Linked DNA regions of Homo sapiens: region 1 is linked to region 2. The links come from fine-mapping of genetic effects on gene expression. A gene starts in region 2. The other region holds a variant in brackets. All regions are shown on one strand. Distances are from middle to middle. Region 1 overlaps SMARCB1 (SWI/SNF related BAF chromatin remodeling complex subunit B1). Region 2 holds the start of CHCHD10 (coiled-coil-helix-coiled-coil-helix domain containing 10).

Evidence for each region. PIP is the estimated chance that this variant, and not a neighbour inherited with it, causes the effect.
Region 1: its variant is the best candidate, but not a certain one, in a credible set for the expression of CHCHD10 in monocytes (BLUEPRINT, PIP 0.90).

The regions. Positions count from the first base shown.
Region 1 is chr22:23,790,033-23,794,408 of GRCh38, reverse strand. SMARCB1 (SWI/SNF related BAF chromatin remodeling complex subunit B1) reads right to left here. Exons shown (of 9, transcript NM_003073.5): 2 at 2,515-2,653; 3 at 721-850. Among named protein-coding and RNA genes, the nearest start is that of SMARCB1, 5.3 kb to the right of the region's middle. RefSeq lists an enhancer at 1,591-2,091. The variant G/A (reference allele first, on the strand shown) is at 1,807.
Region 2 is chr22:23,765,671-23,770,046 of GRCh38, reverse strand. CHCHD10 (coiled-coil-helix-coiled-coil-helix domain containing 10) reads left to right here and starts at 2,075. Exons shown (of 4, transcript NM_213720.3): 1 at 2,075-2,213; 2 at 2,454-2,673; 3 at 3,772-3,919; 4 at 4,021-4,213. The coding sequence starts at 2,173. The coding sequence ends at 4,040. LOC107985577 (a long non-coding RNA gene) reads right to left here and starts at 1,821. Exons shown (of 3, transcript XR_007068022.1): 1 at 1,254-1,821. It overlaps C22orf15 (chromosome 22 open reading frame 15), which reads right to left. Exons shown (of 6, transcript NM_182520.3): 6 at 4,184-4,326. The coding sequence ends at 4,315. RefSeq lists enhancers at 2,938-3,737, 3,738-4,376.

The DNA of each region.
Region 1 (4,376 bases), 24 kb before region 2:
GCCCCACGAGTCCCACTTTCCAAGCATTTGTAACTGTTCTCCGGAATCCAGGACTTGGCTTACGTTTCTTAGAAATTCCAATGATATAGAAGAAACTTAGAAACCTGGCTAAGAAAATGTATAAAAACAGAGGGAACTGTTAAAAAGTGTTTCAATACAAAAATCAGGACCGGGCGCGGTGGCTCACGCCTGTAATCCCAGCACTCTGGGATGCCAAGGCGGGCGGATCACCTGAGGTGGGGTTTCGAGACCAGCCTGACCAACATGGAGAGACTCGTCTCTACCAAAAATACAAAATTAGCTGGGCGTGGTGGCGCATGCCTGTAATCCCAGCTATCTGGGAGGCTGAGGCAGGAGAATCACTTGAACCCAGTAGGCAGAAGTTGCAGTGAGCTGAGATCACGCCATTGCACTCCATCCTGGGCAACAAGAGTGAAACTCTGTCTCAAAGAAAAAAAAACTAGCCAGGTATAGTGGCAGGCACCTGTAATCCCAGCTACTTGGGAGGTTGAGGCAGGAGAATCGCTTGAACCTGGGAGGCAGAGGTTGCAGTGAGCCAAGATCGTGCCACTGCACTCCAGCCTGGGCGACAAGAACAAGATTCCATCTCAAAAAAAAAAAAAAAAAGTGTTTCAATTTAACTTCAACCCAACCAGTTCTTGAGTCTCAGAAAAGACCCCACAGGTGTCCCCAGAGATGCCCTGGCCAGGAACGCATTACCTGAGGTAGGTGGGGGGCTCTGTGCTGATGGACACAGCCTTGTACTTCTCATCGTTGCCATCCAGAATCTCTTCCACTTCCGAGGCTTTTAACAGGGTCACACTGGTGGCTAGAGTCGTGTATCCGTGATCTGTAACAGACAAACATCACTGGGTCACTCTGCTGGTGGCGGTGGCACACAGCAGCCAGCCAAGTGGATGCAGCACATCAAGGTCCTCGCATGCGGGAGGTGGGAAAAGCAAGGTGTCAAACTTACTACTGCTGAATGCTGGCCTCTTCCAAAAGGGCAATCTGGACTGAGTGCTTTACTTACAAGTCCTGCTGGGTAGAGCCTCCAATGGGACTGATTTGGACTAATCTGCCCCAGGAGCACTGGCTCGGGGCAGAGGGAAGTGCTCAGGGCAGCACCAGCAACTACAATACAGCACGACCAGCGGGGACACTCGACTCCAGAACATATTCTCTTGGTCCTCACTCAGGGGAAAAGAAAGCTCCCAGAGTAACACCCCAGTGGGAAGAGGTCTGACACCACCACAATCCACAACACGATGCAAGGTGGGGAGATGGAATGGAAGATGAAGAATACTTTTCTTTTAAAACAAGAGCCCAGAGAGTTGGAAAGAGCTGCTTCACACCAAACACGAATTTCTATCCCCGAGCCGGTCCACACGTGCTGCCTGGGAAGCAGGACAGATTCTAGGCAGCTCGACCCCTAGCTCTTCCGGGGAATCTCCGTCAAGAGCTACCTGTCTGTGGGCCCAGTCTGGCTTCTCCTGGAGAAATCAATCGCTTATGGGGAAGGTATCTCCCAAGACTTAGCCCAGGGACTTGCGGAGGGGGAAGCAAAGCTGGGGACTCACTGTGTTAGCGACTGATGCTCTGCTAGGGGAGGAGGGGGAACAAAAAGGAAACTGTTTTAAGCAAGTGAGTGGAAATGTCATAGCAGCAGATCAAAAAGAAGCTCCGGCTCCTGCATTAAAAGAACCACTACTTTCCCGCAGTGGACAAAACCACAGCAGCACCTACAGACACAAACAAACAGGGCAGACTACGAAGCATCGCGCACATGCTCACAGACACACCCAG[G/A]CCCAGGGCAGCTCTCTACAAGGCGCCATTGCCACGTGGGAAGCAGTTTTGCCACCTGCCCAAGGACATGCTGTGTCCACACCCAAATGTCTCCATGGGAGTGTCTCCCACAGAGCCCCCAGAGTGTCTGAAGAGCACCCTTTCACCCTGCACAGAGCTGCCGTGACCCAAAGCCCACTAGTTTCACTAGTGTACCTAGCAAGCCCCAGGCACACGCAGGCCACCAGGAGCAGGGACATGCACATGGGCTCTAGCACACTGGCTGCCAGGATGAAGTGCTATGGGATGGATGTGCTCCAGGAAGCAAGCAGTGAAAGCCCCAGAGGGGAGTGGGAGCTGGGACCACCACCCGCCACTTGGGCTGCATGGAAGATGATTATGGCGACACACCCACGACAGATGGCAGAGCATCGCAGCATTCCTAAAACGTTTTGAGACCAACATGTCTTCACAGCACCTGCTAGTGTCCTGGCCCCGGCCCGCTCACATACCCAATGGCCCTGCTGGAAATAACTGACAGTGGACCACCAATGGCTCCCTGGAGCCACTTCCTTGCCTGGAGTGCTCACAGGGCGGCCCACCCCGGGATGCTCCCTGCCCGACTAAGGCCAAGGCTGCAGTGAAGACACTCTGGAGTGAAAACGTTTTATCTTCATGACATAAGCGAGTGGTTTTGAAACAGGTTTACAAACCCTCGTGAAGACGCACCCTTAGTGTTAGGTTTTGTTTTTTTACCATGTGACGATGCAACTATTTTCTTCCTCTCTTCCACAGTGGCTAGTCGCCTCCAGAGTGAGGGGTATCTCTTGTACAGAGAACCTCGGAACATACGGAGGTAGTTTCCCACCTATGAGTAAAGCAAGAAGGCTCATTATAAGGGTCGCAGCACCACAGGGAAGGGGAGGGTCCTGGCGCAGACTGCATCAAGCAACAGACAAACAGGCCTTGAGGTGGCCCCCAGGCGCCACGCTTTCGGCAGCATTAAAACACATTCTGCTGATATGAAGGGTTCACCAGCAGTGCACATCTGGCCTGCATATGTGCATCCTGACAACAGAACCAAGTTCCGAAAGGCCTGGGCAGATGCCTGAGTGGGAGGCCCCCAGAGCTTAGCAAGAAGTTCGTGGTGATTTTGATTTTGGACTAAGGATCTCTGGCACTTTCCAGAAATGCAAGGCCTCCTTGACCTTCTTTTATCTTAAGGACAAGACTTTGATATCTTTACAATGTAATAAACACCAAAAAGGTCTTTTAATTTTAGACAGATGCCAGATAATTTCCCCCATGGCCTGTGTTGCTTTGTTTAGTAACAAAACCCAAACCAGGGATACCAAAGGAATTTTCCAAAAGGTTTACAAGGCAATCACCAGACTGCTATATAAATCATCACTGACTCAAACAATGGCTTCAGTTTGCTTGTAGCAAATACTGAAAGTGTGACTTCCTTAAGGAAAATAAATCTAGACCTAAAGTTTTTATGAGGGTACCCTATTGTCTCGTTGACTTTTCAAGTATGATCACTTCGGAGTCACATTGCAGGGGATGGCCAATAGACTGGGTGCCAGGTGCTGGCTCCATCTGTAACCTGGGATCACTTCCCATTTTCTGGGTACCCTTTACTCATCTGCCAAATGCTCAGCAACTCTGAACTTCACCCCCATGAAGGACCACTTCTATTATGTTTCCCATTTTATCTACGCAACATAGTATATATTTTGCATTTTTAAATTTATTTTTAATTTTTATTATTATTTTTGAGACAGGGTCTCGCTCTGTCACCCAGGCTCGATTGCAGTGGTGCGATCGATCATAGCTCACTGCAGCCTCGAACTCCTCGGCTCAAGCGATCCTCCTGCCTCAGCCTCCTGAGTAGCTGGGACTATAGTTGCTTGCCACCACAACCGGCTAATTTTTGTATTTTTTGTAGAGACGGAGTTTCACCATGTTGCCCAGGCTGGTCTCAAACTCCTGGGCTCAAGCGATCTGCCCACCTCGGCCTCCCAAAGTGCTGGGATTACGGGTGTGAGCCACATACCCGGCCTAATTAAAAAAAATAAAAATAAAAATCTGTAGAGACAAGAGTCTCACTATGTTGCCCAGGCTGGTCTTAAACTCCTGGGTTCAAGTGATTCTCCTGCCTGGGCCTCCCAAAGTGCTAGGATTATAGGTGTGAGACCCAGGCATAGTATTAAATAAAATGTTTCTCCATTTTCAGCAGTGACTGTAATCAACAACCAGGGCTACTGAACGCTGAGAGAAGAGCAGACACAGCAAGTCACTCGCTTTCCACATAGAGGGCACAGACCCCTCTATGTTATTTGGCTTGTGTGTCAGTATCATCCAGTATCATGGTAAATGTAGAGTTTCCATTAGGTTTTTTAAAAGAAATTGACAATACTCCCCCCTATGACTACCTTGCAGGCCCTGCAGGGCTCTGAGTCTCCTAGATGCCCCCCAAAGCCCCTTCAGAACTTAGGAAACTGGGCTTGCCTTCCTGGCTTTCCTCTGAACCAGCCTTCACCCTCTTGGGACCCAGGTTTCCTGAATATAAAATCAAGGTGCTGGACTTG
Region 2 (4,376 bases):
GCTGAGGCAAGAGAATCGCTTGAACCCAGGAGGCAGAAGTTGCAGTGAGTGGAGATCATACCACTGCACTCCAGCCTGAGCGACAGAGCAAGACTCCGTTTCAAAAAAAAAAAAAAAAAAAAGTTGGCATTTCAATGCCTGCTTCAGTGTCATCCTTTCAGCCTCATTTTCATTTGTGTAACCCACTTAAGTGGTCTTGGGTGCCTCCGAGGTGCAAGGCCATGCTTTGTGGAACCTGCAGTCCATCAGCCATGGGAGCTGAAGTAACAACTCTCTGCAGTTTAGGCCCGGGGACCACCATGAGAAGTGTTCAGTTTGTTTGGTGTGGCAAACAGGAACCAGGTGGCATGGACTGCATGAACAAGGGAGTAGCGGCTGGACCAGGCCTGGTGAGTCTGCCAGGAAAGAATGGCCCACCCTTGGTGTGCTCACCTCACTGGGAGGCCACCCTCAAGGTGGGTGGTCACCCCCCTTCAGAGAGGAGAAACTGAAGACAGGGCGGGGAAGGGCCCTGTTCACAGGCTGGCTGAAAGGACTGCAGTGTGAGAGAACACAGGGCTGCACCTGACTTCCATGGAGAGCATGCATGGCTGGGGACAGCTGTGCACACACAGAATTGAGCATGCCAGGCAGGGCCAAACGCCCCAGCCACCACTCCCCTTGCCCCTTGACCTGCTCCTTCCTTATGGAGGGGCCTCCTCTCTTACTTGGTGACCCACACCCCCACTTCTGGGTGCTTTTGCTCTTGGTTGCACCCTGCCGACAATCCCGGTGTCAGGAGTCCTCTGCAGGCACAGCAGTGATGAGGGACAGTCCCTACCTTCCCCCACCTAGGAGTAATAATATGACCACTGCAAAGTCACCCAGAAAAGACCATAAAAACCTCAAGCTCAGCCGGGCGCGATGGCTCATGCTTGTAATCCCAGCACTTTGGGAGGCTGAGGTAGGAGGATCATGAGCTCAGGAGTTGGAGACCAGTTTGGCCAACATGGTGAAACCCCGTCTCTACTAAAAATACAAAAATTAGCCAGGTGTGGTGGCACGAGCCTGTAGTCCCAGCTACTCAGGAGGCTGAGGCAGGAGAATTGCTTGAATCCGGGAGGTGGAGGTTGCAGTGAGCCGAGATCGCCACTGCACTCCAACCTGGGCGACAGAGCAAGGCTCCGTGTCAAAAAAAAAAAAGTAAAAAGTAAAATTAAAACCTCAAGTTCTCGAAGAGCAGGAAAGCATTCTAAATCCGCGCTCCAGCTCACCTGGCCTGGAACGAAGCTGCTAAAATTGCGAGGCCGCAGGCTTCAAACTTGCGCTAGATTTGACCGAGCCGGGCAAATGCTCCTAGGCCTTTGGGATAGACACGCTGCTCGGATGTCGCGTAAAGGCCGTTAGTGTCGGGGGTTGCACTCGCGGGGCCAGGGACTAGGTGGGGGCGGTCGGGCCGGCCCGGGGAATCCGGTGGGGTTCAGGGCCGCGCGGGGGGCCTCATATCCCCCGCGGGCACTGCGTAAGGCTGCCAGCATTGGCAGCGCATTTTGGCCAACAGTCGAAGACGGGTTGGGACGCCCCCTCGTGGGAGTTCTGGGGATGGGTTGCTCCAGGCCTTCCCCAGGGCCGCGCTTCACTTCCCTAGGCCACCGGAGACTCCCAGGCCACGCGGTGGTCAGCAGACCCTGTCTGGAGGGAGGGGACAGACAGCCGAGTCCGGGAGGGGGCAGAGAGCGGAGTCCAGCCTGGAGCCTCGCGTCCCCTTCCCAGCTGGCCCCATCCCGTCGCCTCCCCGTCTCCTCTCCCCTCCAGGGCTCGCAACAACCCCCAACTCCGCTCCCTGCCCTCTGCGGTGGTCCTAACAGAAGGCACTGTCGCCCTCCTTAAGCCCTCGGCGCTTTGCGACACTGGCCCCTGTCCCCAGAACCCGCACAGCCTGCCAGGCGCAGGGAGGGAGCAGGGTCCCATTTCCAGCCGAGACCCGGAGCTGCTGGAAGGGAGATGTCCGGAGGACGGGAGAAGGGGGATAGGGTTGGGGGCAGTGCCGCCTCCCGCTGGGGGCGTGTTCCTGAGGCCCCGCCCGGGGCCCCGCCTTTTTTGCGCCGGCTGTGACAAGCGCTGCGGCATTTGTCCCCGCGACAGCACCGCTGCCGCCGTCTCTAAGGTCGCCCGGGTCCCACCGCCGCCACCATGCCTCGGGGAAGCCGCAGCGCGGCCTCCCGGCCAGCCAGGTGTGAGGGGGACAAGGGCCCTGTGGGGAGGGGGTTAGGGAAGTGTGGGCACTCCCCTAAGGGCGTCCGCAGAGTGACCTTGGCTGCTGCTGCGCCATCTTGGCGGGGGGAGGGGTGGGGGTGCAGCACCCACGTGTGGAGACGTGGGTCGTCCATCTCTCCGGGGGTCGTTTCCAGGAGCTGCAGCCCTCCAGCCTGGGGTCTGGCCAGGATTAACCCTGCTTCCTCCCACCCCCGCAGCCGCCCAGCCGCGCCCTCTGCCCACCCGCCCGCGCACCCACCGCCCTCGGCAGCCGCCCCAGCCCCCGCCCCTTCGGGCCAGCCGGGGCTCATGGCTCAGATGGCGACCACGGCCGCAGGGGTAGCCGTGGGCTCGGCTGTGGGACACGTCATGGGCAGCGCCCTGACCGGAGCCTTCAGCGGGGGGAGCTCGGAGCCCTCCCAGCCTGCTGTCCAGCAGGTGAGCAGCGAGTCCAAGAGAAACTGAGGCAGGATTATCTCGAGGCCACACAGGGAGCTGCCCAAGTGTCCAGTGAGGAGTGTCCGCGTGTATTCACCATTGCTTCAGCCCAGGACTCTGCCCGGGAAGGGTCCTAGTCCACTGGTCTTGAGTTCACTGTCACTTAGAGGCAGGCTTCCCGGCCTCTCCCTTGAGGCCAGGGTCCCTAAGCTCCCAGGGAGAGACACCAACCAGCCCTTTAAAGATGGGAAACCCAGGCCCTGAGGGCTCAGAGACTCGCCCAAGGTCACCTCACCCTAGCAGAGGGGAGGGATGTTGGATTTCCTGAGCCCCTGTTCTCCCCACACCCAGGTCTGGGCACTGTGGCCGCTGGGCGCAAGGGCGAAGGGGAGCCACTTCCCTGATGACCTTTCCCCTGCTAGGAACCCCACCGCCGTAAGCCAAATGTGGCTTTGTGGCTAGGTCAGGGGTCATGAGGATTAGTGTAGCTGAGCCAGGAAGGTGCTAGAACTTGTGGGGGTGGGGCTCATACTCTGAGAGTACAGGCAGAGTACTGGGCTTTCCTAGAGCCTTCTCCTCCCTCTCCTGCACCCGCCCAAAGTGCCCATTAGAAGGCAGCAGAGGCCAGGCGCAGTGGCTCATGCCTGTAATCCCAGCACTTTGGGAGGCCAAGGCGGGTGGATCATGAGTTCAGGAGTTCGATACCAGCCTGGCCAACATAGTGAAACCCCCTCTCTACTAAAAATACAAAAAATTTGTTGGGCATGGTGGCGGGCGCCTGTAGCCCCAGCTACTTGGGAGGCCAAGGCAGGACAACCACTTGAACCCGGGAGGCGGAGGTTGCAGTGAGCCGAGACTGCGCCGCTGCACTCCACTCTAGGTGACAGAGTGAGACTCTGTCTCAAAAAAAAAAAAAAAAAAAGGCAGCAGAAACATGCTGTCTGTAGCCGCCTCTGCTGCTGGATCACTCAGCCTGCCTAGGACCCTTGGGACACCCAGGCTGGGGATGTGGGGAGGGGCAGGTGGCCCCAGGTTTGAAACGCACCTCCAGGTGCCAACTCCAAGCTGATCCTGCAGCCTCTTGCACTGTACCCCCAGGCCCCCACCCCCGCTGCCCCCCAGCCCCTGCAGATGGGGCCCTGCGCCTACGAGATCAGGCAGTTCCTGGACTGTTCCACCACTCAGAGTGACCTGTCCCTGTGTGAGGGCTTCAGCGAGGCCCTGAAGCAGTGCAAGTACTACCATGGTGAGTGAGTGGACCCCGACTCAGGCGGGGAGGGGGAGAGGCCAACCCTCCTCTTGCACCTGCAGGCTGACCACCAGCCTGTGCTGCCCCTCCCTTCCCAGGTCTGAGCTCCCTGCCCTGAAGAGGTCGGTGCAGACTCGGGGGCCAGTCCTGCACCCACCTCTACCCCTCGCCGACAGCCAGACCACAACACCAGATTGTACCCAGATAGCTGGGATTGGAAGTGAGGAGGTTTCTCACCCCACAGATAACCCAAGACACAAATGTGCAATTAAAAGTTTATTTTAGACCACAGCCTGTTGTGTGCCTCTCTCGATGGCCTGTCTTCAGGGAGCTCCCTGGCTGATGAGGTGGGGTCAGGATGGATGTCTCACTACAGTGTGCAATCCATCCCCTTAATCAGGGCCCTGGGTGGGGAGGAGGAGCCCTGTTGCAATCTGCACTGTGGGTAGCACAG